Homo sapiens: one gene and its partners. The protein of the gene in region 2 interacts with the protein of the main gene of each other region in a pairwise test. Each region holds a gene or a part of one and is shown on either strand. Other genes may lie near its edges. The genes, in order: APAF1, CYCS, COA7 and BRWD1.

The links.
Region 1: the proteins of CYCS (region 2) and APAF1 interact in binary tests that used the Homo sapiens proteins (3 or more experiments, as listed by UniProt).
Region 3: the proteins of CYCS (region 2) and COA7 interact in binary tests that used the Homo sapiens proteins (3 or more experiments, as listed by UniProt).
Region 4: the proteins of CYCS (region 2) and BRWD1 interact in binary tests that used the Homo sapiens proteins (3 or more experiments, as listed by UniProt).

Annotation. Positions count from the first base shown.
Region 1 is NC_000012.12:98,640,132-98,649,179, forward strand, and holds the start of APAF1 (apoptotic protease-activating factor 1), read left to right. Parts: upstream 1-5,158; 5' UTR 5,159-5,704; intron 5,705-8,187; 5' UTR 8,188-8,228; coding exon 8,229-8,366; intron 8,367-8,494; coding exon 8,495-8,684; intron 8,685-9,048. Other genes in the region: IKBIP (inhibitor of nuclear factor kappa-B kinase-interacting protein), read right to left, coding at 4,392-4,570. UniProt on the Homo sapiens protein: Oligomeric Apaf-1 mediates the cytochrome c-dependent autocatalytic activation of pro-caspase-9 (Apaf-3), leading to the activation of caspase-3 and apoptosis. This activation requires ATP. Isoform 6 is less effective in inducing apoptosis.
Region 2 is NC_000007.14:25,117,215-25,121,980, reverse strand, and holds the end of CYCS (cytochrome c), read left to right. Parts: 3' UTR 1-3,325; downstream 3,326-4,766. UniProt on the Homo sapiens protein: Electron carrier protein. The oxidized form of the cytochrome c heme group can accept an electron from the heme group of the cytochrome c1 subunit of cytochrome reductase.
Region 3 is NC_000001.11:52,688,348-52,696,568, reverse strand, and holds part of COA7 (cytochrome c oxidase assembly factor 7), read left to right. Parts: intron 1-3,701; coding exon 3,702-3,842; intron 3,843-8,221. UniProt on the Homo sapiens protein: Required for assembly of mitochondrial respiratory chain complex I and complex IV.
Region 4 is NC_000021.9:39,184,548-39,192,419, reverse strand, and holds the end of BRWD1 (bromodomain and WD repeat-containing protein 1), read left to right. Parts: 3' UTR 1-5,002; coding exon of another isoform or gene 5,003-5,394; 3' UTR 5,395-6,938; downstream 6,939-7,872. UniProt on the Homo sapiens protein: May be a transcriptional activator. May be involved in chromatin remodeling. Plays a role in the regulation of cell morphology and cytoskeletal organization. Required in the control of cell shape.

The DNA of each region.
Region 1 (9,048 bases), on a different chromosome or scaffold from region 2:
AAAACTTTTATAAAGGCAATTTAGGCCAGGCACGGTGGCTCACGCCTGTAATCCTAGCACTTTGGGAGGCTGAGGTGGACAGATCACCTGAGGTTGGGAGTTTGACACCAGCTTGACCAATGGAGAAACCCTGTCTCTACTAAAAATACAAAATTAGCTGGGCGTGGTGGCGCACACCTGTAATCCCAGCTACTCGGGAGGCTGAGGCAGGAGAATTGCTTGAACCTGGGAGGTGGAGGTGGAGGTTGCGGTGAGCTGAGATTGCGCCACTGCACTCCAGCCTGGGCAACAAGAGCAAAACTCCATCTCTCAAAACAAAACAAAACAAAACAAAACAAAACAAAACAAAAAAGCAATTAAAAAATCTATTGAAGTTTCCATAAGAAACAAAATTTTCACAATGGAAATTCCAGCTGATTAAATTTCTATGTAATTAAATAAGCATGAGTGACAGGTTTTGTGTCTTGTTTAGTAATTTAACAACTTTTTAACTTTCTGAAAGTAGAATCACCTCAATTCTTACCTGAAAAATTTCTATAAGAGTTTAGAAAAGAGCTATGCAAACTGACACTCAAGCCATATGGGTTTGGGCAACTTATCTCCAGTGTTTATTGTCAAGATGACATAGGATATATCAGGCCTTTTTTTTTTTGCAGGGTCTCACTTTGTCACCCAGGCTGAGTGCTGTGGTGCAATCAAAGCTCACTGAAACCTCAAATTCCGGGGCTCAAGCAATCCTCCAACCTCAACCCCCCAAGTAGCTGGGACTACAGGCATGCGCCACCATGCCTGGCTAATTTTTTGTATTTTTTGTAGAGACAGGGTTTTACCATGTTGCCCAGGCTGGTCTTGAACTCCTGAGCTCAAGATCCGCCCAACTCGGCCTCCCAAAGTGCTGGGATTACAGGTGGGAGCCACCACACCTGGCCTATCAGGCCTTTATTTAGCAGAGAGAAGATATTAAAGCAACACACTTTTAAGTTTCTTATGTATTATTTCTCTTTTCTTTCCACATAGGAAATGGTCTGAAGACAATGATATAGTGTGATTCCTTGAAATCCTTCTTGGGCAGTGGAAGGGTTCAGATTTTTTCCCTCCAACTTAATCAGATGAAGAGTGAGAGTAAGCAGTATTTAAGAGTACACAGACAGGCACACATATGCACTTGTATTTTAACCACCAGGGCCGTGTCAGTACGGAAAGCATTTAATAAAGATTTGATAGACCGACTTTTAGATGCTGAATTACGTGTTTTAGTGGTAAAGATCTCAATGGCTTTGTCAAAATTCTAGTGAGCTTTTAAGTATTTTAAGATGCCAAATACTTGCTTTTTATCTGGAAAATGTTTACAAATGTCTTATGGGGATATATTTTTATTTCAAAATTTACTATGAATAAATATTTTGCAATAAACAGCAACCAAAGTACATTTGCTTCAATTTTTGCAGCAAAAGATTTCACAAGAGCAACTAAGAGGCAACTATTTAAATAATAATTATAGAATCTGCCCATAAAAAACACATATAATACATACATTTTAGAGAGACAGGGTCTTGCTCTGTCTCTCAGGCTGGAGCACAGTGGTATAATCATGGGTTACTGCAGCTTTGACTTCCCAGACTCAAGCTATCTTCTCACCTCAGCCTCCCAAGTACCTGGGACTACAGCGAATGCCACCACACTTGGCTAATATTTAAAAATTTTTCGTAGACACGGTCTCACTATGTTTCCCAGGCTGGTTTCAAACTCCTGACCTCAAGCAATTCTCTCGCCTCAGTTTCCCAAAGTGTTGGGATTATAGGCATGAACCACTGGGTCTGGCCCCCAAAATTATTTTTGATATAGCATTGTGTTATCATTTTGCAAACATAGTTCAAATTAAATCTTCCTAATGAATGTAATACATTCATTACAATGTAATACAGGAATCACTAACAGCAAATTCCTGATGTGAGGGAAATTTTATTCCCATAAAGTTTAGTTTTCTATTAAAGCTTATCCCAGGATAGTAACTAACTTTCCCAAAACACAAAAGGTTACTTATTTATTTAGGCGAAGTCTCGCTCTGTTATCCAGGCTGGAGTGCAGTAGCAGATCTTGGCTCACTGCAACCTCCACCTCCCAGGTTCAAGTGATTCTCCTGCCTCAACCTCTGAGTAGCTGGGATTACACCAGGCCCAGCTAATTTTTGTGTTTTTGGTAGAGATAGGGTTTCACCATGTTGGACAGGCTGGTCTCAAATTCCTGACCTCAAGTGATTCGCCTGCCTCGGCCTCCCAAAGTGCTAGGATTACAGGCGCAAGCCACTGCACCTGGCCCAAAAAGGTTTTTTTTTCAATTTACTTAAAGGAGGTCAAGCATTTTAAGGCATAAGAGCCGTTTATTTAAAACAGTAAATTCAGTACATTTATTCCTTTCAGATCAAAATTAACATATTCCGTATTAGTAAAATAAATAATGCTATCTGCTTTTTTTTTTTTTTTTTTTGAGAAGGAGTTTTGCTCCATCCTGCAGGCTGGAGTGCAGTGGCACGATTTCGGCTCACTGCAACCTCCGCCTCTTGGGTTCAAGTGATTTTCCTGCCTCAGCCTCCTGAGTAGCTGGGATTACAGGAGCATGCCACCATGCCTGGCTTTTTTGTATTTTTAGTAGACACAGGGTTTTGCTATGTTGGCCAGGCTGGTCTCAAACTCCTGACCTCAGGTGATCCACCCACCTTGGCCTCCCAAAGTGCTGGGAGTACAGGCATGAGCCACTGCCGGCAGGCTGACAATTCTATTGTTTTTGAAGAGGGCGTTTAATCACTTTATTGTGACAAAATTTTGTTTGTTTGTTTTTTGAGATGGAGTCTCGCTCTGTTGCCCAGGCTGGAGTGCAATGGCACGATCCCAGCTCACTGCAACCTCCACCTCCCCATTTCGAGTGATTCTCCTGCCTCAGCCTCCTGAATAGCTGGGATTGCAGGTTTGTGCCACCAAGCCTGGCTAATTTTTGTATTTTTTGTAGAGACAGGGTTTCACCATGTTGGCCAGCCTGGTCTTGAACTCCTGACCTCATGATCTGCCCACCTCGGCCTCCCAAAGTGCTGGGATTACAGGTGTGAGCCACCGCGCCCAGCCGTAACAAATCTTTTAACTCTGAAAAATACACTATTTGGGATGAGTCACCAGTAAAGTATAATTCCATATGTAGTAGCATAAAAAATGTCTAGATGTCCAGGGTCTCTTCTAAAATTCTATCACTCTGGAAGATTAACAACAGTCTTACTAAATAACTTTACACATGAATGAAAAATGGAGAAAAATTCTATTAAGATGCCAATCTTATTAAAATGAAATGGGCTATTCCCTCCTCCCGCCAGAAAAAAAAAGGCTGGGAAAATAAAATTCACAAGTTGGTTTTTTTCTTTTTTCTTTTTTTACGAGTTGGTTTTAAGGTTATTTCTAATATTCATTTTTCCTAATGACACCAATATATCGCCATTTACCTGATTTTAAAACTGCAACTGGTTAGTTTTAAGTGAACACAAGTGCTATGTTTTTGTAGCTTTACCATATTCAATCTGTAACTTACTTAATAAAAGACCTTAAATTCATAATGCATGCACGGTGATCAAAATATGAGCACTCCTCCAAGCTCTGCTACTATAACGTTTGCTCCTTTGGGAGCATAATGATATGGTTTTCTTTTTTTTTTTTTTTTGAGACGGAGTCTCGCTCGGTCGCCCAGGCTGGAGTGCAGTGATGCGATCTTGGCTCATAGCAACCTCCGCCTCCCGGGTTCAAGCGATTCTCCTGCCTCAGCCTCCGGAGGAACTGGGACTACAGGCGCCCGCCACCACGCCCGGCTGATTATTCGTATTTTTGGTAGAGATGGGGTTTCACCATGTTGGCCAGGCTAGTCTCGAACTCCTGACCTCAAGTGATCCACCTGCCTCGGTCTCCAAACATAATGATCTGTTTTAAGGTTGCAAGTATTTCCATTAGGTATTTATGGGGTGAGTAGGGTGGGGCAGATGTGTCCCGGAATGGGGCACAGCGGACAGGAAGTAACGGTTTATAACAACGTGAACGCTTCTGACGTGTAGCGGGAGCTTCAGAAAGCGTGGCCGAATCTGCAGCTCTTAACAAATGGCTCGTTCCCAAACCTTAGCCTCAACTCCTTCTGAGCGATAGGGGCATGCTACCAGCACGGGGGGAAATGAGATACAAGAAACGCCCGAAAGGGAAAAACAAGGCTGGGCTGTTTCCTTCCTTTGGGGTCAAGACAGAGGCACAGAAGGCCCAGGTCTGGGAGGTTGGATCACCTCCGGCTGGATGTTGAGCCGGGTGGGAGCCCAAACAGCAGGGGGCCCACAGGAGGCCGGCCCAGGCAGCCTCGCGTCCACTTACCAGGCCAGGCCCAGGCACGTCCCCAGCGACAGCAGGCTCAGGCACGTTCGGGGGTCTGCCCAGCCCCCGCCTCCGCTGCTCCGGGCCACGGGGGTCTTCCCGCCCTCGCTCCGCTTCCCGGGCTCCGCAGCAGGGGCTCCCTTGGGCCCCGACTTCTTCCGGCTCTTCACCTCAGACATGTCTGGAGACCCTAGGACGACAAGCCCAGGGCAGCTTCTTCACCAGGGGGAGCAGGACGTGGCCGCCTTGGCGTTCGTGGGAACCCTGGGCGGTGACCGCGCCCCCTCACAGACTTGGCACCGCCCAGAGCCCAGCCCCTTCCCTCTCCCCGGCATCCTCGTTGCTTCACTGAGTCTTTCAGCTGCCAGCTCCATAGTTCCCCTAGGAGAGGTGGGCGGCGACCTCAACCCACAGCGCCTTCCACTGCGATATTGCTCCAAATCCGAGGAAATTCAAACTCCCGGGCGCGCGCAGGCCGACGGGACCCGAGGAGGAGGGGCAGGACGAAGGGGTCGCGCGCGCCACGTCGGGCGCGCCGCCGCTGCCCGAGTCCGGCATTGGTGGGAACGCGGCGCGTCCCTGAGGCTTAGCCACGCCCCGTCCGCGGGGTAGGCGGGCACTTCTACGCGCGCGGGCATGAGCCGTGGCAGGAGTGCGCGGCGGCAGCGGTGGCCGCCCCTTGGGGCTTGGGGTGTGTTTATTTGCATAAGCGGGCGCGCGCCGTCCGGGCTGGGTGGATCCGGCGGGATTTGACTGCTCCGCTGTCCAGAGGCGGAGAAGAAGAGGTAGCGAGTGGACGTGACTGCTCTATCCCGGGCAAAAGGGATAGAACCAGAGGTGGGGAGTCTGGGCAGTCGGCGACCCGCGAAGACTTGAGGTGCCGCAGCGGCATCCGGAGTAGCGCCGGGCTCCCTCCGGGGTGCAGCCGCCGTCGGGGGAAGGGCGCCACAGGCCGGGAAGACCTCCTCCCTTTGTGTCCAGTAGTGGGGTCCACCGGAGGGCGGCCCGTGGGCCGGGCCTCACCGCGGCGCTCCGGGACTGTGGGGTCAGGCTGCGTTGGGTGGACGCCCACCTCGCCAACCTTCGGAGGTCCCTGGGGGTCTTCGTGCGCCCCGGGGCTGCAGAGATCCAGGGGAGGCGCCTGTGAGGCCCGGACCTGCCCCGGGGCGAAGGGTATGTGGCGAGACAGAGCCCTGCACCCCTAATTCCCGGTGGAAAACTCCTGTTGCCGTTTCCCTCCACCGGCCTGGAGTCTCCCAGTCTTGTCCCGGCAGTGCCGCCCTCCCCACTAAGACCTAGGCGCAAAGGCTTGGGTAAGTTGACCTCCTCGCTTTTCTCCCCGAGCCAGGTTCTTTGGAGGCTTGGTAGCTGATTTCAGGGACTGAGAATTTGAGGACATGGAATATTTGATAACCATCCTGCTCCTGTACCAGGAAGAGAAATTCTGTAATGAGGAAGTAGTAAACTTGGGGTTTTCGTGGATAAACGTGCGCTGTTTTCTGTTTTACGTCCATGAAGAGTTTTGGCTTTCCATTTTGTTGTGGGTTACAAAAGGTTTTGAGACTTAGTTCAGATAAGTTGTGCAGTTTTAAAACGTATTTAAGATTTGCATATTTTAGTTTAACAGGACTAGGTGAAATTGGAAATTAGTTTCAGAAAACCAGAGTGTCTTATTTGCTTAGCTATTGGACATCACCTAAAAAATTCATTCATTCTTGTTTTTTCACATCGAATTTCATTACTATAAATTAAGGAACATTTTATGTTTAAGAGGACAAAAACGTTATTAACATTTTAAAAAATGAGAGTTTTGATTCGAATCAATAACTTTTTATCAGTTTTGTGCCCCTGCTGGGCATTTTGTAAGCCTTGACAAGCATAGGCAAATGCCCTACGTCCGTCCCTGTTTTTCCAAGTGCTACATTTGGTGACTTCAAAAACAGTCATTGAAGCTTGATAATTATTGCCCCCTTCTGTGAGCTCCAAGTTACTTGTGCTCTGTTTTTGCACTTCGGGCATTCACATTCCCACTCTCTCTCTCTTTTTCTTCTTTGAGTAGACTGTGAATTATTTCAGGCAAATGACTCAATCTTTTCTGTAGTCTTGGTGTCTGACATATAGGGAGGGGCACAAATGTGTATTGAATGAATGAATTGATAAACCCGTTTAGACTCTTTCACTCTATACATTGTGTAAAGTTCTGTTAATGTTTTGAAAACTTGCAGATATTGTGAACTGGGTTTTATGCCCATGGAAAAATTTGCATTATATTTGAAATAAAGTTGCTAGAAACGTCAAGTATTTTACTATAAAGGCTGTTATTCTTTCCTCATGTCCTCCTGGTCTGAGAAATCACATCAGAAAGTGTTTCCTGTTGCTTTGTGGGAAATGTGTTTAGCAAGGAGGACCTAGAGCTGACATCCTCCTTGAACGAGAACTAATACTCAATAGTAACAATGCTCTATTCACTCTTATGTTTGATAAGGAAAACAAGAAGTCTCTTAATATTAGGACTTCAATGTAATCACTATTTTATACAATCTTAATTAAAAAAGGAAGTATTTTATTGTAAGAAATGATAATGTGTGCTAAAAAAAATTGACAGTAGAGGCCGGGCATGGTGGGGCTCACAAGTGTAATCCCAGCACTTTCGGAGGCTGTGGCGGGTGGATCACCTGAGGTCAGGAATTCAAGACCAGCCTGGTCAACATGGTGAAACCCCGTCTGTACTAAAAAAAAAAAAAAAATAAGACAAGGTGGGGGAGAAATCCCAAATTTTGCTACTCAGAAGTAACTCAAACATTTCGATGAATAAACTTCTAAACGTCTATATATATTCATATGATACCAACACTTGTTTTTTTTTTTGAGACAGAGTCTCAGTCTGTCGCCCAGGCTGGAGTACAGTAGAGTGGTCTCGGCTCACTGCAACCTCTGCCGCCCTGGTTCAAGCAGTTCTCTTGCTTCAGCCTCCCGAGCAGCTGGGATTACAGGCACCTGCCACTGCATCTGGCTAATTTTGTATTTTTAGTAGAGACAGGGTTTCACCATCTTGGCCAGGCTGGTCTTGAATTCCTGACCTCGTGATCCACCCGCCTCGGCCTCCCAAAGTGCTGGGATTACAGGCATGAGCCACTGCGCCCGGCCCCCACGTTATGTGTTGTATGTGGGATCATGTTTCTGTTTTTTTTTTTTTTTTTTTTCAGCAACAGTATTATGAACATCTTTCCATGTCAATACATGGAGATATGTGTCATAATTTTGAATGGCTGCATAATATTCCATTTTATATACATACCCTAATTTTTAAAATCTATATTCAGAATGATGGACATTTAGGTTGCGTTCATCACTGAAACATCCTCCATTAATTCTTTTTTCTTTTTATTTTTTACTCTAGCCTCCCAATGTGCTGGGATTATAGGCTTGAGCTACCACACCTGATTGGAAACTCATTAATTCTCCTTGTGGATATTTTTACATATGTATTTGAATGTCTCCTTGAAGTAAATCCTTAGAAATGGGATTTCTGGGTTAGAGAGAAAGCTTATTTTAAACAATTCCATATCTTACTGCTTTCCAGAAAAATTGCATTCATTTTCTAGTTTCCCCAATTAGTGCATAAGAATGGCCATTTTCTCATACCTTTCCAAGCACTGGGTTTTGTCCATTTAAAAATTTTTGCCAAGGAAAAAAAATCAGTTTTGTTCTTTTTACGTTTCTTGTTTATTAGTGAGATTATGTATCTTTTCATATTTTTATTGGCCTGACAAATATTTTGGTGTTTTGGCTGTAGCTCATGGTTGACAGCTCAGAGAGAGAAAGATCTGAGGGAAGATGGATGCAAAAGCTCGAAATTGTTTGCTTCAACATAGAGAAGCTCTGGAAAAGGACATCAAGACATCCTACATCATGGATCACATGATTAGTGATGGATTTTTAACAATATCAGAAGAGGAAAAAGTAAGAAATGAGGTAAAGCTCTCTGAAGCAGTCCACACTTCCTTAAAAATTTTTAGAATTTCAGAACTTGTACTGGTCTCCACTACTTTATGTTGCATACATATTCATTGTTGTATACTAAACTACTTAATTTTTTTTAGCCCACTCAACAGCAAAGAGCAGCTATGCTGATTAAAATGATACTTAAAAAAGATAATGATTCCTACGTATCATTCTACAATGCTCTACTACATGAAGGATATAAAGATCTTGCTGCCCTTCTCCATGATGGCATTCCTGTTGTCTCTTCTTCCAGTGGTAAAGATTCAGTTAGTGGAATAACTTCGTATGGTTTGTATCCATTATACCTTCTATCACTTTGCTATCAAAATTGCTTTGGGTTTGTCTTATTGTAGATGTAATCTTTTGAAGAGAGTGTGACCAGTTCACTGAAAACTGCATGTTAAAAAAATTGTAGTGATGTTTTCAATTTAAATATTTTTTATTTGCATCCACATTAACTCTCAACTTTTCTTCTTGCCCAGTGAACTGTACTGCTGAGATAATAATATGTCTACCCTAATTTTTAGAGACAATAAGACAATTTATAGGCCCTTGTTTATTTTCCAGTTCTATGTGTTTATAGAGTTTATAGGAAAAAATAAGAATCTTTAGAAATATATGTTCTTGAAAGGTATTCCATAAATGTTCTTCC
Region 2 (4,766 bases):
AGAAATGTGTTCAACCTTCCATCTTGGCTAGTTGTGGCGTTTAGTTTGTTTTTTGAGACATGGTCACGCTGTGTCGCCAAGGCTGGAGTGCAGTGGTGCGATCTCGGCTGGCTGCAACCTCTATTTCCCAGGCTCAAGCGATTCTCTCACTTCAGCTTCCCAAGTAGCTGGGACTACAGGTGTTCGCCACCATGCCCAGCTAATTTTTTTGTAGAGATGGAGTTTTGCCATGTGGTCCCAGGCTGGTCTCAAACTCCTGAGCTCAAGCAATCCGTCCACTTGCCTTGGCTCCCCAAAGTGCTGGGATTACAGGCGTGAGCCACCAGGCCCTGCCTGGTTTTCAAATTCAGAAATCTTATTATTTAACCCAGAAGTAATCAGCCCAGTAGTAACTTAGGTTTAATTTTTTTTCAGGTTTAAAATTTTTCTCATTTATTTTTTCTGAGACGGAGTTTCGCCCTTTTCGCCCAGGCTGAGTACAGTGGTGCAATCTCACTGCAACCTCCGCCTTCCAGTTGCAAGTGATTCTCCTGCCTCAGCCTCCTGAGTAGCTGGGATTACAGGCACCCGCCACCACGCCTGGCTAATTTTTGTATTTTTAGTGGAGATGGTGTTTCACCATGTTGGCCAGACTGGTCTTGGACTCCTGACCTCGTGATCCACCCACCTTGGCCTCCCAAAGTTCTAGGATTACAGGTGTGAGCCACCACGTCCGGCCAATTTTTCTCATTTCTATGCCTCCTATATTAAGGTCTGTGTTGGCACAGATGAGTAACTGCCATGTTCTAGGTCAGTTATACCCAAGCACTTCTGGTGGTTTAAAATGTGATTCTGTAACTTTTTTATTTTTATTTTTTTGAGATAATTTCACTCTTGTTGCCCAGGCTGGAGTGCAATGGCGTGATCGCTGCTCACCGCAACCTCCGCCTTCCAGGTTCAAGCGATTCTCCTGACTCAGCCTCTCAAGTAGCTGGGATTACAAGCATGCGCCACCATGCCCAGCTTATTTTGTGTTTTTAGTAGAGACAGGGTTTCTCCATGCTGGACAGGCTGGTCTTGAACTCCCGACGTCAGGTGATCTACCTGCCTCGGCCTCCCAAAGTGCTGGGATTACAGGCGTGAGCCACCACGCCTGGCCAATTATGTAATTTTTTAAAAAGGACATTTCTATCAGGGATATATACCTTCAGAAATAAGGAAATAGGGGAAAAAAAGAGCACTATAAACCACATGTTTTCATTTCTAGTGCTTCGCTGTAAGTGGCTAGGTTGGTAGAATCAAAAACAAGGGCCAGATGTATTTAAGGGGTATTCAGATGCCACCTACATGCTTATTTTGTCTAGAACAGTGCTGTCTAATAGAACTTTCTGTGACGATGGATATTTTGTAGACTTTTGCTGTCCAGTGTGGTAGCCACTAACCACATGTGGCTGTTAAGCCCTTGAAATATAGCTAGTGTGACTAGAAAGTATTTTATTTTAAATTTACATAGGCACAAGTGGCTAGTGGCTACTGTATTGACATTCTGGGTCTAGGACTAGAACCAGTGGTCTGTAACAAAAGTACTTTCTCTTTACTCTATTAAATCTAGAATTAGCCGGGCATGGTCGCTCATGCCTGTAATCCCAGCACTTTGGGAGGCCAAGGCAGGCAGATCACTTGAGGTCAGGCGTTTGAGACCAGCCTGGTCAACATGGCGAAACCCTGTCTCTACAAAAAACATAAAAATTAGCCAGGTGTGGTGGTGGGCACCTGTAATCTCAGCTACTTGGGAGGCTGAGGCACAAGAATCACTTGAACTTGGGAGGTGGAGGTTGCAGTGAGCCAAGATTGTGCCACTGCACTCAAGCCTGGGTGACGAGTGAAACTGTCTCCAAAAAAAAAAAAAAATCTAGAATTCTTGGAAGTACATTATATTGCCCTTCAGAATAGATTCCAGTTCCTGTTGTGCTCACCTTTATAATTTTACCATAAGTTTTACCTATTCGTAAGTTGGCAGTTTTAGATAGATAACATTCTGGTGGTAGCTAGGGATTTACCTTTTGTCATCCTTTTCCTGCACTTCTCTTGAATTCCTTTATAGATGTACAGTTTTGCTTTAACCACTGAAGATTGCTGTAAATTATAAAGGGTGTGATAGAATCCACATGGCTGTCAAGAAGGAGATCTTACCAAGGACAGTTGACTGACTAGTCTCAGATTGTTTCATATCATTTATACTTGGGTAAGAGTAAACTAGATAACTGGGCGTCGTGGTGCACACCTGTAGTCCCAGCCACTCTGAGGCAGGAGGACTGCTTGTGCCCAGAAGTTCGAGGCTGCAGTGTAGCTGTGATTGTGCTACTGCACTCCAGCCTGGGCAACAGATAAAGGAAACTCCATCTCTTTTAAAAAAAAAAAAAGTGGTCTGGGTGCAGTAGGTCATGCCTGCAATCCCAGCACTTTGGGAGGCCAAGGCAGGCAGATCACCTGAGGTCAGGAGCTTGAGACCAGCCTGGCCAACATGGTGAAACCCCATCTCTACCAAAAATATAAAAACTAGCTGGGCGTGGTGGCGGCACCTGTAATTGCAGCTATTTGAGAGGCTGAGGCAGGAGAATCGCTTGAACCTGGGAGATGGGGGTTGCAGTGAGCCAAGACCGCCCCATCGCACTCCAGCCTGGGCAACAATAGTGAAACTCCGTCTCAAAAAGAAAAAAAGTTTCCTTAGAATGGAAAATATTCATTCATGAGCTCTTTTGGCAATCCGTCATCAGTATATTCTGAAAACCAATAAGATGTTGCCAAGTTGGGGGCGAGAGCTATGTAATGCAAGGCATATGCCTGATGAAGTATACAAATACACCTGACCAGAAACTTTGTCTCCCACATAAGTCTCTTCTAGGCACTGTCGGGGTACATACTGAGCTGCTGCTTTGGCTGTATTTTCTGTGCCTCAGAATAACCATTGTCCTGGTGTTCATATCCTTAGAGTTCAGTACAAAATGTTGGATATCCATTTAATAGGTTCCAGGTTATCTTAGTTGGAGTTTGGGGTATTTGAAAACGTCATGCCTTCAGGCTATCATTTCCCTCAGAAAGCTAAGTAAATTTACTGCATTCATTTCTCAAAGAGTAAAAGTGCAGGTTGTATGTGTCTATGAACATTTAAACATGTTAAAATGTTAAATTTAACATTTTAAATTTAAACATTTAAATATGTCTGTAACTTGAACAGTGTAGTTTCAGAAAGGACCACTGGGCTAGTGTAATGCAGAAAATGCTGGGTCTAGGATTAGGAGAAAATTGTGTTTAGTGTGTATCAATAAACAGCCCGTGGACCCAATCTGACCAGATGCCTGTTTTTGTAAAGAGAACTTTATTGGGCTTGGTGCAGTGGCTTATGCCTGTAATCCCAGCACTTTGGGAGGACAGGGCAGATGGATCACAAGGTCAGGAGTTTGAGACCAGCCTGACCAACATGGTGAAAGCCCGTCTCTACTAAAATACAAAAATTACCTAGGGGTGGGGGGCGGTGGGCACCTGAAATCCAGCTACTCGGAGGCTGAGGCAGGAGAATCGCTTCAACCTGAGAGGCAGAGGTTGCAGTGAGCCAAGATCACACCACTGCACTCCAGCTTGGGCAACAGAGCAAGACTCCGTCTCAAGAAAAAAAACTTTATTGGATCACAGTCACATTCGTTAGTGTATTGTTTAGGGCTGCTTTGGGCTACAACATTAGAGGTTAGTGGTTGTGACAAAGCCTAAAATATTTAGTGTGGCATTTTACAGAGTTTCTCAGTTCTGTGTTTAGAGCTTTGCTTTATCAATCTGATTAACACAACGTTGTATTTGTGGAGAATGGGAATAAGCACCTCAAAAGATTCACTGAATGATGTGTGAATGCCTGTAACTGGCAAGCACAGAAAAATTTGTTCATATCTATGTCAAATTCCTTGAAAGTCACATAGTGAAAAGTCACTACTTCCAAGGTTAGCAAGAACCTATTTGTCGATATTTTCTATTCTCAATTGACTCAATCTGTGTGACATCTGACACACTTGACTGCTCTTATTTTCTCACTTCCCTCAGTTTGTTAGTTTCACATTCACATAGAATGAAACAGACATAAACATCGTTATGTATGTGTAGCTGTAATAATCTCTTGATAACCCACATACTTCAGCATGACGTTTTGCCCAAATTCTAGTCCCTGAACTTAAATTGCTTTGTAGTTATAAAGTGCGTTCATATCTCAATTCATCCTCAGCACCTCAAAAGGCACTGGGGACAGGCTCAGAGGTTGTTACTGCTAAAGGTCACACAGATACACTTCCTCGTTAGCAGTACCACATGTACTGACACCAACCCTTCCTCCGTGCCTTCTAAAACGCCACATAAACTGGGTCATCTCTTTTAGCCTCTTTACAGAATGTACACACTTTGTTAATAGAAACAGGGCTTTCTCCAGGCCCATGAACTTCTCAGCCCTCACAAATAGAGACTGCTTCCACACAGTCCACAAAAGAGGCCATGTAGTCTTGGCATCTTCCAAATCATCACTCTTCTCTCACAGGCAGAGCTACTTGTGTGAGGTTTCTGACATCTGCATGGACCTTTGGACCTTTTGCTGTCATCTGTGTACTTCTAGACCATTACTCACTGGGCACTTCACCTGGCTTATGATCTCTACTGCAACCCTTTTTTATTTTTAAAAGTTATCCTGGTAATAGCTGTATACATTCAAAGAACCTATCCTTAATGCCACTGTAGCCTCAATTTTTTAC
Region 3 (8,221 bases), on a different chromosome or scaffold from region 2:
CGTAACATAGACCATAACACAACCATATACATATCATAACATAGTCATGACACAGAGTTGCTCTGCAGTATGATGGCTTGAAAAGAACCTGGGGTTGGGCCGGGCACAGTGGCTCACGCCTGTAATCCCAGCACTTTGGGAGGCTGAGGTGGGCAGATCACCTGAGGACAGGAGTTCAAGACCAGCCTGACCAATATGATTAAACTGTCTCTACTAAAAATACAAAAATTAGCCGGACGTGGTGGCATGCGCCTGTAATCCCAGCTACTCGGGAGGCTGAGACAGGAGAATGGCTTGAACCTGGGAGGCGGAGGTTGCAGTGAGCTGAGATCGCGCCATCACACTCCAGCCTGGGCAACAAGAGTGAAACAACGTCTCAAAAAAAAGAACCTGGGGTTGTTCTTTGAGAGCTGGTCCATGTCCTAAGTATAGAAAGAACTTAGAGGAATTGGGGTCACTAAGGAACAGGGTGGTTAGGGAAGACTTTGAGGGGAGGTCTGGAGGGCTGGGCAAGTGTTGATTAAATGGAGGAGAGGGTGGGAGAAGAAAGTGCTATCTTTTGGAAGGTTGAAGTCAGGATTTAGTACGTTTGAAGCGGGAGTCTGGCCCACAGTATGTCAGGGCTTGAATGCCAGGGTAAGGAATATAGACTTTGCTCTGTAGGCAATGGAGAGCAAAACATGTCTGAGAAGCAAGTTCTTGGAATTGGGAAGGGTGGATATATCAAAAGGACTGGCTGCAGCACTTTACGAGACCTGAGAAGAGGCTATAGTTACCGTAGCGACTGGTGTAGTAGTTCCTTGCATGTCCCACTTTCTTACCTGGATAACTGAAGTCGCCTTCTAACCTGTCCCTCTCTTTGCACTTTACTCCCTTAAAATCCATTTCTACTCGCAGATAAACTGATATTTTAATTTCAATTTTGTTATGTTAAATATTAGATTTTAAAATAACCTATTTGTTATCAATGCCCAATTATATACCCTCACATAATTAAATTCCTCCATACTCAGGCATATATGAACATATATACCAGAGTAACGTTTTTGTTGGGGGGTGGGGTTGTTTGTTTGGTTTTGGTGGCTTTTTGGTTGTTTGTTTTCTGAGACAGGGTATTACTCTGTCGCCCAGGCTGGAGTGCAGTGGTGCAATCTCAGCTCACTGCAACCTCTGCCTCCCAGGTTCAAGTACTTCTCCTGCCCCAGCCTCCCAGGTAGCTGGGATTACAGGCGTGTTCCACCACGCCTGGCTTTTTTTTTTTTTTTTTTTTTCCCTGAGGCTGAGTCTTGCTCTGTTGCCCAGGCTTGAGTACAGTGGCACGATATCAGCTCACTGCAACCTCTGCCTCCCGGGTTCAAGTGATTCTCCTGCCTCAGCCTCCCAAGTAGCTGGAATTACAAGCGTGCGCCACCAAGCCTGGCTAATTTTTGTATTTTTAGTAGAGACGGGATTTCACCATGTTAGCCAGGCTGGTCTAGAACTCCTGACCTCGAGTGATCTACCCGCCTTGGCCTCCCAAAGTGCTGGGATTACAGGCATGAGCCACCACACCTGGCCTGAATCATATTACTTATTTTCTTGAAACCCTCCAGTGGTTTACTGTTTCAGTTGGAAAAAATCATAACTCCATCCTATGTTTCACGAGGCCTATGGTCTGGTCCCTACCTTCCTTCTTCATTTCCTGACCCTCCTCCTTGGTTCAGCCATGTTGTACCTTATTCGTGCCAAACTTATTCTTTCAGGTCTTTGTATTTACTGTTCCTTGTGCCAGGACTTTGTGCCCCTGCCCATTTTATTGTCTTTTAATTTCATTTTTTATTTTTTATTTTTAAATTTTTTCCAAATCCCTGCCCCACTCCCATTTCATTGTCTTTAAATAGCTAGTGCTTTCTTGTTATTGAGGTCACAGTCCTTGGTGAGCCCCTCCCCAGTGGCTCAGTCTTTGTTAGCCATTCACCCAAAGTTGACAGCAAACAGTTATCCTGTTTTACTTCAGTCATAGCATTTATGTATTTATTTGTATAAATTTAAGGGGTACAAGTGCAGTTTTGTTACATGGATATATTGCCTGGTTGTGAAGTCTGGGCTTTTTTTTTTTTTTTTTTTTCGAGATGGAGTTTTGCTCTTGTTGCCCAGGCTGGAGCGCAATGGCGCTATCTCGGCTCACCGCAGTCTCCGCCTCCCGAGTTGAAGTGATTCTCTGCCTCAGCCTCCCGAGTAGCTGGGATTATAGGCATGCGCCACCATGCCCGGCTAATATTTTCGTATTTTTAGTAGAGACGAGGTTTCTCAATGTTGGTCAGGCTGGTCTAGAACTCCCGACCTCAGGTGATCTGCCTGCCTCGGCCTCCCAAATTGCTGGGGAAGTCTGGGCTTTTAATGTAACCAACCATCACCCAAATAATGCACTTGTACCTGTTAGGTAATTTTTTATTCCTCACCATCCTCCCACCCTTCCCAATCTCCAGTGTCTATTATTCCACACTCCCTGTGTCCATGTGTACACAGTATTTAGCTCCCACTTATAAGTGAGGACATGCAGTATTTCACTTCCTGTTTCTGAGTTGTTATAACATTTATTACTGTTTGAATAAATTTTGTTCATTTATTTATTTATTGTATTTCCTCCCCTAGAATGTAAATTTTAGGAGGGCAAATGAGTATATTCTCAGCATCTAGAACCATGTCTGGTACATAGATGCATAGAGATGCTCAAATATTTGTTGAACGAAAATGAATGAGAGATATATGTTGTCACTGGGGGTAAAGAAGAGGGGAGAGAGATTAAGGAAAGAGGTTTACTGGGACTGGGAGACTGCCAAGGAAGTAGAGCCTATTTTCATTAGAAGCTGCCGCCTCTACTCTTTCTCTTTGGCTTTCATGTTCCTACCCTGGCTGAGGAGTAAGCTATAGTCATTACAGCACCCTTTTCTTTTTCTTTCTTTCTTTTTTTTTTTTTTTTTAAGACAGAGTCTCGTTCTGTCACCCAGGCTGGAGTGCAGTGGCGTGATCTCGGCCCGCCGCAACCTCCGCCCCCTGGGTTCAAGCGATTCTCCTGCCTTAGCCTCCCAGGTAGCTGGGATTACAGGTGTGCGCCACCACACCTGGCTAATTTTTTTATATTTTTCCACTCCTGGCTAATTTTTTTGCATTTTTAGTAGAGACAGGGTTTTACCCTGTCCAGGCTGGTCTCGAACTCCAGACCTCAAGTGATCCTCCTGCCTCAGCCTCCCCAAGTGCTGGGATTACAGGCATGAGCTACCGAGCCTGGCCCAGCACCCTTTTCTTGCTGCTACAAAGACTAGCCTATGAGCCTTTTAGGTTTTCACTGTTTTTACCATTTAACTTCATGAGAGATTCCAAAACTAGCAAAGTTTCAATCATGGAAGTCAGTGGATACTTGGGCGTGGCTGACAGGGAGCAGAAGGGCTGGTGAGTGGTAGAGCCAATGCAGGGGCTGAGGTCTCCCCAAGCCATGCATTGCTCAGTCCATGGCTGTGGGGAGACAATGCCATTTGTAGGAATGGCTAAACACCACCTACATTCTTTGTGGTAAGGCCAACTTGCCACACATCAGGAGGACAGGGGCTGTCTTAAAAGACATCACCTGGCCTGCCACACCTGGGCACCCCCTACCCCCAAGTCCCCACTGCGAGCAGCAGCCCCAGACATGAAGAACAACCCTTGCCCTCTTCTCGCAGGTTGCTATCGGCTGGTGGACTATTTGGAAGGGATCCGGAAGAATTTTGATGAGGCTGCCAAGGTGTTGAAGTTTAACTGTGAAGAGAACCAGCACAGTGATAGCTGCTACAAACTGGGGGCCTACTATGTGACTGGAAAAGGTAAGGAGGGCCTGCCTTTTGGGTCCTTGTCATTGATAGCAGTGCTGGCCTCACACCTGAGCCCCATGATAAGCTCTTGCAGAAGGGTCTCGCAGGCATTGGGAAAGTGCATTGTAGGAAGATGGAGAGGTAGGAGTTCAGCAGAGTGATGGGGGGAAGAACACAGCCTTTCAAGTTAGGTAAACCTTAGGGAATGCTATTGGCAAGTAGTGGGACCTTGAGCCAATCACTTCGACTCTGTGCCTCAGTTACATCACCTGTAAATTGGAGGGAAATAGTACTTGCTTTGTAGGGTGGTGAGGATTAAGTAGGACAGCATAGGAAAAGGCATCAGCATGTGCTTGGCACAGAGTAAGGGGTCAGTAATTATTGTCTTCCTTCTGTCTTTTCTCCTTGTACTCTAATTGTAGTTATCACTGGCATAGTGTTTACATTATCTATGGCTAAATAACAAAATAGTTATTTTTGTTCACCTCAATAGTTTCTGTGGGTCAAGAATTTGGGAGTGGTTTAGTGGGGGTACCTCAGGGTATCTCATGAGGTTATAGTCAAGACATTGGCCAGGGAGCCAGGGCTGGAGACATTGGAAGGCTTGACTGAAGTTGGAGTTTCCAATTCTAAGATGACTCACTCTGATGGCTGGTAGCAGAGGCCTCTAGTTCCTTACCAGCTGTTATTGGGAGAGCTCAGATCGTCATGACATGGTTCGCTCCATGGGCTGCTTGAGTGTCCTCATGACATGGCGTCTGGGTTCCCCCAGAGTGAGTAATTTAAAGGAGACAACAAGATAGAATCCACAGTGTCTTCTATGACCTATCTTTGGAAGTCACACACTTTTCATTTCTATCACATATTTATTAGATGTAGCCTACACTAAGGGGAAGGACTTAAATTCCACTTCTTGAAGAGGAAGGAATATTAAAGAACTTATGGACATATTTAAAACCACCACAGGCCAGGCACGGTGGCTCATGCCTGTAATCCCAGCACTTTGGGAGGCCAAGGCGGGTGGATCATGAGGTCAGGAGTTCAAGACCAGCCTGACCAACATGGTGAAACCCCATCTCTACTAAAAATACAAAAAAAAATTAGCTGGGCGTGGTGGCGCGCACCTGTAATCCCAGCTACTCAGGAGGCTGAGGCAGGAGAATCACTTGAACCCTGGAGGCAGAGGTTGCAGTGAGCTGAGATCGCGCCACTGCACTCCAGCCTGGGCAACAGAGCAAGACTCTGTCTCACAAAAAAAAAAAAAAAAACACACACACACATAAATAAGTAATAGGACCTTTGACAGGCAGCTTTTTTTTTTTTTTGTGACAGGATCTTGTTCTGTTTCTCAGACTGGAGTGCAGTGATAAAATCATAACTCACTGCAGCCTTGAGCTCCTGGGCTCAGGCAATCCTCCTGCCTCAGCCTCCCCAGTGGCTGGAACTATAGGCACGTGCCCCCATGCTTAGCTAATTTTTTATTTTTTGTAGAGACAGGATCTCACTATGTTGTCAGGCTGGTCTCAAACTCCTGGCCTCAAGCAATCCTTGCACCTTGGCCTCTCAAAGTGCTAGGGTAAGGTGTGAGCCACTGCACCTGGCCAAGGATGTCTTTTTTTTTTTGAGACAGGGTCCCGAGACAGGGTCCCACTCTGTCGCCCAGGCTGGTGTGCAGTGGCATGATCTCGGCTCACCACAACCCCCTGGCTCAAGTGATTCTCCTGCCTCAACCTTCCGAGTAGCTGGGATTACAGGGGCGTTTGCCACTACCACCCAGCTAATTTTTGTATTTTTAGTAGAGATGGGGTTTCGCCATGTTAGCCAGGCTGGTCTTGAACTAACCTCAAACGATCCACCCGCCTTGGCCTCCCAAAATGCTGGGATTACAGGTGTGAGCCACCGTGCCTGGCCCCATTTTAATTTTTTAAACTAAATTTTAGGCCAGGTGCAGTGGCTCACTTGAGCCCGGGAGGTGGAGGCTGCAGTGAGCCGAGATTGCTTCACTGCACTCCAGCCTCGGCCACAGAGCAAGACTCTGTCTCTAAATAAATAAATAAATAAATAAATAAATGTAAATAAATGAAAATAAAAATGATTCTAACCTTTTAATATTTTTTCTAAACTCTTGATAGCCCTAGTGGCTCATTTAGGAAATGTCACTATGGGCTAGAAATATTAATTTGTAGGTCAGCAGTTTCCTTAGTTTCACTTCAGTTTGGTTTTCTTCTGATAAATTCAAGTAAAATCAAAGTTAAATTTTTTACTTACAAGTAGCATTTGTGATCCAATTTTTCCAAACACTTCTATCTAGTATCCATTCAACCAGCCAGCATTTAATCTGAACACATGCTACAAAGATGACTGGAATGGTGTTCACTTAATGATAATGATGGTTATTTCTAGGTGGATTTGGAATGGTTACTTAAAAGAATAATGTTAAAATGTTTATATTTTTTGAGATTGAGTAATGGTACATGGAGATTTGAAGTTTTGCACACACACAAACAACTAAAAAAAGTGAGCCCTGCCACCACTTCTACTTAAAATTATTTGTTAGTGATTTCCCATTGTTTTTAAGATTAAATTCAGGGGTCTTAATGTGACCCTGCATGATCTGGTCCCTGCTTGCTTGCCTGCCTTGCACTATACTTTTCCTCCATGCTCTTTTTACACTTAAAATCATCTTTTTTTTTTTTTTCTTTTTTTTTTTTTGAGACAGAGTTATGCTCTGTCATCTAGGCTGGAGTGCAATGGCGCGATCTCTGCTCACTGCAAGCTCCACTTCTGGGGTTCATGCCATTCTTCTGCCTCAGCTTCCTGAGTGGCTGGCATTACAGGCCCCTGCCACCATGCCCAGCTCATTTTTTTTGTATTTTTAGTAGAGATGGGGTTTCACCATGTTGGCCAGGCTGGTCTCGAACTCCTGACCTCGTGATCCACCCGCCTCAGCCTCCCAAAGTGCTGGGATTACAGGCGTAAGCCACCGCGCCCAGCCTGATTTTTGTATTTTTGTAGAAATGGGGTTTTACCATGTTGGCCAGGCTGGTCTTGAGCCTCCTGATCTCAGGTGATCCGCCCACCTCGGCCTCCCAAAGTGCTGGGATTACAGGCGTGAGTCACCACGCCTGGCCTCCTGTGTATTTTAAATCAATTACTTAGAACAGGGGTATTCAATCTTTTTGCTTTCCTGGACCACATTGGAAGAAGAGTTGTCTTGGGCCATATATAAAATACAGTAATGATAGCTGATGAGCTTAAAAAAAAAATCACAAAAAAAATCTCATAGGCCAGGTGAAGTGGCTCACGCCTGTAATCCCAGCATTTTGGGAGGCTGAGGCGGGCGGATCATGAGGTCAGGAGTTCAAGACTAGCCTGACCAACGTGGTGAAACCCCGTCTCTACTGAAAACACAAAAATTAGCCTGGCGTGGTGGCATGCACCTGTAATCCCAGCATTTTGGGAGGCTGAGGCAGGAGAATCGCTTGAACCCTGGAGGCAGAGGTAGCAGTGAGCCAAGATCACGCCACTGCACTCCAGCCTGGGCGACACAGCAAGACTCCATCTCAAAAAAAAAAAAATAATAATAATAATAATTTCATAATGTTTTAAGAAAGTTTATGAATTTGTGTTAAGCCGCTTTCAAAGCCATCCCAGGCCCATGGGTTGGACAATCTTGACTTAGACTATCTAATACAATGTAAATACTGAGTAAATAATTGTTCTATTTTATATATTTTGTATTTTTTAATTGTATTGTTATTTTTTCCCTAATATTTTTGATGTGTGGTTGGTTGAACCCATGGATATGGAGGGCCCACTGTATGTTTAAATTAATAAACAATTAAGTGCTTGTCATATGCCATGTTCTCACTGTAACCCCATGAGGTAGATATTATTATCATTCCCAATTTTCACCTCCTTTACCTGTTTGAGTTTCCTCATAAGGTATCATCTGAATAAAAGATTCTACGGCTGAGAAAGCTAGGAGGTCTGTGCACTATGCCAGGCTACCTTTCATGCTGCCTGAGCTCATAGTATGGACATTTTTTTTTCTTTTTGAGGTAAAGTCTTGCTCTGTCACCCAGGTTGATCTCGAATTCCTGGCCTCAAGCAATCATCCTGCACAAAGTGCTAGGATTACAGGTGTGAGCCACTGTGCTCAGCCTTAAACTTTATTCAGGAATTGTTGTTGGCCAGGTGTGGTGGCTCACGCCTGTAATTCCAGCACTTTGGGAGGCCAAGGTGGGAGGATCGCTTGAGTCCCAGAGTTTAAGACTAGCCTTGGCAACATAGTGAGATCCTTTCTCTACAAAAAAATTTAAAAATTAGCCAGGCATAGTGGTTGGTGTGTGCCTGTAGTCCCAGCTACTTGGGGAGGCTGAGATGGGAAG
Region 4 (7,872 bases), on a different chromosome or scaffold from region 2:
ACAGTTTGAGACTGTCTCTTATCCTAGTATTTGGGAAGAGAAGGAATAAATTTGTCAAAACTAGGTGAGAAAATAGAGCATTGTGGGAAAAACTGAGTCCAACTAGATTAGCAAATGTTAATTCCTAGCTCAAACTGTGAATAGTAAGGATTGAAAAGTAAAGTATGTAATGCTAAGGGCTGTGTTGTCTTTTCTTACGATTTTAAGTTTTAAAGGCTGTTAAATTACAGAGATGTTGCCCAAGGATACATGGGGATTCTCAAAAGTAAGAGATTTTTACCTTTTTCATAATCTGCCAAGCTGGTTCCTAATATATTGTTAAATTGGTAGAAAAATATCTTTAAATTGGTGTCTGCTCAAGAATTGCTTTTCTAGATTTGATGGAGGGAGGGGGAGAGTCACATCATTTGGATTCTACCAATCTGCAGGCTCTATCTTTGGCAACATGTAAATAATTAGACTATACATCTGTTTCTCAAGTATGGCAAGACCAATAGTTTGAATTTAATTATCAATGCTATGGTATACTTTCTGGTCATATTTTAGTTATGTCAGTTTTAAGGTAAGTTTTTTCATTTATTAAAGCCCTTAAATGAGATTTTAGACTGCCAAAGAGAAGAGGCAGTCCAATTGACCTAACTGAAATGAGATGACCAGTATATAGAGCCTAGATGGACTGTAGCAGCTCTACCCCTTTGTTTTACAAGGTAAATCATTTTAAAAATTACCTTTTTTGATCAGTGGGTAAAAGTTAAAGGGATCTTTAATTTTTGATATATTCAAGTTAATTTTCTAAATGTGAATCAGTCCTTGGACTGCAACTATATATTCACCTACAAAATCCCAATCAAAAAATTACATGAGCCTGTCAAGCAGATCTTTAGTTTTCCACTTCACATAAGATCGTTAATGTTCTAAATTAATCTATTCATTTAGATGATTTTTGTCAGTTCTTAAATGGGATATAATAAATTTAGCATTTTCATCTTAACAAGCAAAAGAGTTAAAAAACAAAACAAAACACTACTCCAAGCCAAATACATTCTAGCTGGTTAATTCCAGACTTGTCCCAAGTGGTTCCCCAACCTCTTTTCCACTGGTAATTTCTTTTCATGCAGGCAGAATATAGGGGTGCGAGCGCTGTGAGTTTTACATATGAGCTTGGATAGGGGAACTGAAGCGAGTCAGGAGCCCTGCTGGAAAAGGGGTTTGCCATTGGATTGTCTGTGGCCTGGTTTCTTTCCAGTAGTACAGTAATAGGGTAGATTGAAAACAAGTATTTACTTCTGATTCTGCCTGCATTTAGTGTGAAATGCTCTTAAGGTATTGCTTCTAAAAAGCAAATTAAGCAGTTAAGTATAAAGTCCCTGAATTCATATTTCAAAATAAGGCTTTTATGAGATTTTTATTAAAAATTGCAATAGCCATCACAAATCTGAGTTTTTCTAGGGGTGAGAGAAAACTGTATTGTGATGAGCTAGATTAGTTGTAGTTCCAGAATAAGAACAAAAATTCAGAGTTGTGTGGTGCCCATCATTGAGTAAATGAACCCTAAAAATGAATAAGCTAATGAACTAGTTCATGGAATTATTTCTGATGGTCTTTTGACCTGATGCTGCCATACTGCAGTGTTACCAGCTCCCCCTAGAAAACGGAACTGTTTAAAAACACAGCAAGTTACAGAAACCATTTTATTCTACAGCCATTGGGGTACTTCAGTTTATGGGATGTTTTTGGAAACTTCTGCTTTGGGAGGGATGAAGATCATTGATAAATGTTATTTGCTTTCTGAGTTTTGGGGTCATTTCATTGCTTATCAATGAAGGGCAGACAGAGGAGAGAATATCTCAAGTCTTTTCTGATAAAAGGCTTGCTTGAGGGAGCTTATAACTTGCACCTAGAGGGTTTACCCACTTTGTGGATTTGATTTATCCACCAACCACAGCAACCAATAATGTCAAGATTCTAGGAGTTTATGAAAGAGGCTAGTATGTTTTCATTTTGAGTCAGACATTCTTTTCTCATTCTCAAATCTGTTTTAAATGCTCCAATTTTAAAAATGCCAATGAAAATTTTATAATGCTTCTGTAGTAACCATATGCAGTTTACTTTGAATTTAGGAAAACAGTTTTGTATGATGAAATATTGTGCAGAATCTGTAAATAAGGTAGCTTAAAAATTAAAAAAAAGTCTAATTAGAATATGATTAATCCTTGAAATGTAGAAACTAGAGATTGTGTTGAGTCAGAACTGTTATGTTTGTATCCAGGTTTCTATTCACCACATATACCATCTTAGAATACACACATATCTGTGAGTTATAATTTAAAGTGGTCATCCAGGGAAATGATCATGGAGTGCTACTACAGATGTACAGTTTTACACTACTGATGTGTTCTTGCCATACCCAAGTAGGGAATCACTTCCAGGAAAACAAGTCCTCAAGCACTCAATGACTTTGTAAACCCATGACTGAAACAAGACTCATCTGAGGCAGTAGGACTGGTGGGATTCTACTGACTTCTTAGTATCACATGGCACCATCACAAATGCATTGTTAGAGCAGCAACATCCAGAGTTCTTAAGCTTGTACCCTAACACACAAATTTGACTTCTAACCCTGAAATATCCTATATATATTTCTAAAACTGTTTGTAGTTTTCTTGAGAAAAAGCACTTTATAATTTACTCAGTTTTCAGTAATAAAATTAACACTGACTTGAATGTATTTAAAAAAATTCTCCACAGTTTTGTCTTCCTCAGATTGTTTTTATCCTTATTCTCTGAAATTCCTGTTTTATTGTCTAAGACTTAAGAGATTCAGCTTTATCAAGTTAGAGTACAGTGTAATTCAAATTCTCCCTCCCTTGGGCATAGTTACTGAAGTTCAAATTTCCTTAAGTATTTTTTAAAAACCTGATTTTAGTTTTTTTTTTCCTGCAGAATCTTAACTTTTCCATTATTCTGGATGACAAATAAACATTTATTAAAATGTGTTAGAATTAGTATTTACTAGGTTCCTAAATTGTCAGTATAGGTACTTTGATCACACATCAAAATGGAATTTCTGCAACTTAAAGCATTTTGTTACAAATTGTAGTTGAAATAGAATTTTATCTATTTGTCTGGATGAATAGGTTGTTGGGAATGAACCAGTTATCTGTTCTTTTCTTCCAAATGCAAATGGTGCAGCTAGTTGATAATAGTATATTCTCATCCTACTATAAAGTGCAAATTTCACCTTAATTTTGCATATTTTAAAATTTTTGTTTACCCTTTGTAGCATATTTACATTTTAGCATTTGCTAACATTGATTTAATGTGTTAAAGATTCATTTTGGATATAGGGTTGACTTGTTGGAGATACTAGTTCATAATTTTAAAATTCCCAAGAGAAGTGTCTTTGAAGTGGTAAACACAGTGCACTTTAAGCCACTTCTCTTCCCACAGAGTCCAGCTGAAGGAGGTAAGGGCATGCTGCATGAGAGTAATGCCGTGATGAGTGTCTTACTCTGGTAAAATGCCATTTACAATGCCTGGAGACTGAACACTGAACAAAACATAGTGCCCTTAGAATTTCACTGGAAAAACATGTGAATCACATAAGTTAGTTGGCAAAAGGAACTGATGTGTATGTGGTGGGGTTGCTTTGAATAAAGTATTTCCTAACCTATTCTGGGGAGAACGCTCAACTGATCTTAGAGAAGTGTGAAATCAGTTTCATAGACTTAGGGAAAAATCTGAAGTGCTTGCACTGTGAGGGCAGAGGCCTGCCTCATTAGTCTAGCTGTATGAACATGTCAGTCCACAGAAGCAGTTTTTACCTGTACTCATCTGCCCTTCAGTCAGCTTTGTGACAGAAGGGCAAACATCTTCACAGAAGAAAAAGTTCAGAAGGTTGGCATTGGTGGTTTCATTGCTACAGAATAATAGTGTTACTTGATAGTATCTGACTAAAAGAGCTCTCATTTTCTAGTACTTAGTAGTAAAAAGAATGTGGTGGAGTCCTCCAGATGTCTAGTGTGGGTGGAGGATATCAACTGGTTATTTCAGTGATCTACAGCCTTACCTTTTGAATGCTAAATGTCTGGAAACTTCAGGCAGGGTCCTACAAAACAAACTGCCATCAAGATTGGTGTGTACCATGAAGGCAGTTTTAGATAGTTTGACTGTTCATGGCTGCAAGAAAGACCTAAAATTCAAGGGCCCGTGAACTTCAGATACGTAAAAGGAATATCACTTCTGTTCTAGAAGAGTACTAATTAGACTTGTTTGTGAAATTTGAAAATTTGGCTTTGAGACACTGGTAACAAACATATCTGAGCCCTCCTAAGTTTGGTCAGCACGGAGTAGTAGCTCTGGCATCATGTGGCTGTGTAGAGCTCCAGTGTGATTTCAAGCCCCCTCTAAAAACTGCCTTAGTCTGCATGAAGTAGTTAACTCTCCAAAGTGCTTTTTGTCTGGCAAATCCCTTCACAATTTTCACCTCTCGTCTAAAAGCTTCCTTAAAGGAAGCCTTCCTTGATCCCTTAGGCTAGGTTAGGTTTCCAGTCTGTGTTCTCATAGCACTCTGCACTTTTTGGTTCCTTAAAGCAACTCTGTGTTATTTTTTAGAATTTTAATCTGAATCTCGTGTGTCACATACCTAGGTCAGAAAATACTGGAACAATGAAGTTAAGATTTAGTAATTCAAATTATGTAAAATGCTCATATATATGTTTTTAGATTAGCAGCTTTATGATGCCGATGCTGAAGGAACTTTTCACCCCATTCTTACAAGTCTGCTACTGTTTTAAGTGACATCCTTATAGTTGTAGATAAGCAAATGTAAGGTTATATCAATGTGAAGAAGCCCTTAGTATCACATTTTAAAATTTATCATTTAGCAATATGACTTTTAAATTTATTGTTTCCGAATGAGTGTTGTTGAGGAATGTTAGCAGTAGTAAAATCTTGTGTTACAAGATTTTTGCATTTACATGAACTTTCACTCATTTTTCAGAATTTGTTCCTAGAGACAGAGAACCCAATACAAAAGTGAGAACATGTATGCATAATCAGAAGGATGCAGTGCAGATGCCTAGTGAAACTCTGAAAGCAAAAATGGTACCTGAGAAAGTTCCCCGCAGATGTGCTACTGTTGCTGCAAATAAAATAAAGATAATGAGTAATCTAAAAGAAACGATCTCAGGACCAGAAAATGTCTGGATTAGGAAGAGTAGCAGAAAACTGCCCCATCGAAATGCTTCTGCTGCGGCTAAGAAAAAATTACTGAATGTTTATAAAGAGGATGATACAACCATAAATTCTGAAAGTGAAAAAGAGCTAGAAGATATTAATAGAAAAATGCTTTTTTTAAGGGGGTTCAGATCCTGGAAAGAAAATGCACAATAGTGACTATGAGAATGTAGAAGTGGCATCTGAAAACAATTGGTACACAAGTAAACTGGCAGTTACATTCTGCTCCCAGCTCTAAAATTACTCCCTTATTGGCATCTTTGGAGGAATTTTCTAAAAGCCATAATCCAGTGGGTTCCTCCCAGTCAGCTCTTGTACAGACATGTGCTCTGGGGAATTCTGAGGAGGAAATAAATTGCAGAGTCTGTAGGTGGAGAGGTGGAAAGAAAAGACAAATGGCCTGCTATAAGACTACTATTCCTTTCCAGAATGCAAGGCCTTGAAGACATGATTCCTTAGAGGAAGAATATAATGGGAAGTGTACAGGCTAGGAAGAACTTGAAGTGAACAAATTTCAAAATCTTAACCTGATGCTAATTTTCAGGGTTCTCCATTACAGTGTAAAAATTCAGACCACGACAACTATGGTGTCATGAGGAAAAAAAATCAGGCATTTTTCCAAAGGAAGTGCTAATGGGCCTATTTGACTTCTGAGTGAAGCAAAAACTACCCAGATCCATTCCCTACAATTCACATCCCCAAAGGTCAAAAACAAACTAGGAGGACCTGGGAATTTCAGCTGGAGATACTGATTATTGAGTTCTGAAGTAGAGTGTTGGAAATAGGCAATTAGAGAAAGTCCATTGATGTCATTTTGTTTATAATATTGCAGTTCATACTGAATGACCACTTGATATGACTAATTCAGGGAATATATATTTTTCTATGAAAGCTATGAATGTTACTATCACGGCTTTTCCTTATTTTTACTTGTATGTAGCAGCATTTACAGAAATGCCAAAAATGTGCCTCATTAAGAGGCAGGTCTTAATCAGTTAGATAAAAATAAAATGTATAGCTTAAGATCAAAACAGTCATATTTTTAGATACAGTGAAATCTTTTATGTTTCTCTACAGCACCTTAAAAATTAGAACTTGAATACTTTGAGTAAACTTACTACAATCTCATCCCAACAAACTTTAATGGTAGCATGTTTGGCCTATTTCATTGTGGCCTGTACTAGGATTAGAAAATTTGGTCGTGGTATAACAAAGAAGTGTATTTACAATAGGATTTAATTTGTTGTTAATATGTATTTGTTGAAATTAAAATTGCCAGATTAAATGAATATACTGTCGCATCTTTTTAACATAGTAACGTGTTACTGGAAAAATTAAGTTGTTGAAAGTAAGTTGTTTTCCCATTTAAAAATATCTGAATATATGATTTGCATGTGTAAATCTGAAAAACTAAACTACAGAAACCTAGGGTTTTCTATTTCTTTTTTAAGTCAAATGCATTTTTTTTTTTTTGTTATACAGATGAACCAAGTGTCTAAAATACTTGAGAAATTTGTGGTTGCATGTCTGTTTTAAAAAAAAGGCTTTTTGTTTTTTAGCATAAGCCAGAATATTCTAACCTACTAAGTCTGTGTCCTTTGCTCCTTTTGTAGTATACTTTCATCTAAATTACTGATCCCCAATATGTTGATACACAGGTGAGAAAGGGAAGAATTCCTAATAAACTGCTATTACTTTTAGGTGCATGGGGTTTGATTTTTGAGCTCTAATGAAATGCTTAAACTTCTTTCCAGTTCAAATTTTACACTTAATTTATAATATTTATTGAGTATATTATGTCCTCAACAAGTAACTATAAAATGAAATACTTAACTCGGTGAAGACTATTTTATGCAAAGTTTTTTTTTTTTTTTTTTTTTTTTTTTAGCAATTTCAGTGTAATGAAAGAATTTAAGCTTTGAATTTATAATTTGCTGTGGTGGGGTTAATTTCTGTCAGTATTTGAGATTGTATTATCAGTCTTGCATAATGAAATCCTTTTTTGGCTAAGTATTTAATTCGAACATATTTGCCTTTTTAAAAAGTGCTTGGCCTAAACTTATTGTAACTGCATGAAATAAGCATTTGCTTAAAACTTAACATTGTAAAATTGTTCTCTCTGAAATGTGTGCAGAATTTAAATCATGGCCAAATGTATTACTATTACCCTATTTACAGTAATTTGCTTTGCAGAAAATATTTCTTCATCATGGAACTGTGAAATCAAATTGAAGATCTTACTGGTAAAAATGACAAATTAACAAAAGGACTAAGACAAGTGGTGCCCAAACAACCTTTTTATTCTGCAGTTCCATCATCATAATAGACCAGTTAACCCAGGAGTCCTAATGTTTTAAAACATCATTGTGGTGATCTTGTTTATTCTATCTCACTAAGGATATCCAGTTTCCTAAGCTCTTACTGGCTAGCAATTTCGTCTTAATTTTATTGCTAAATGTTCAAATTTTGCTTCCAAACTCACTTTATTTTTGCAGATGTGTACATCTGCTAAGTACTAATTTTATGTAAATGATTTTGTTGATTATCTTTCCACATCTTAAAATGTTTCTAACAGCTTTGAGATTTTATCTCAACAGGCTCTCTCTGACCCCAAAGTAGTACTTACCTTCGTGA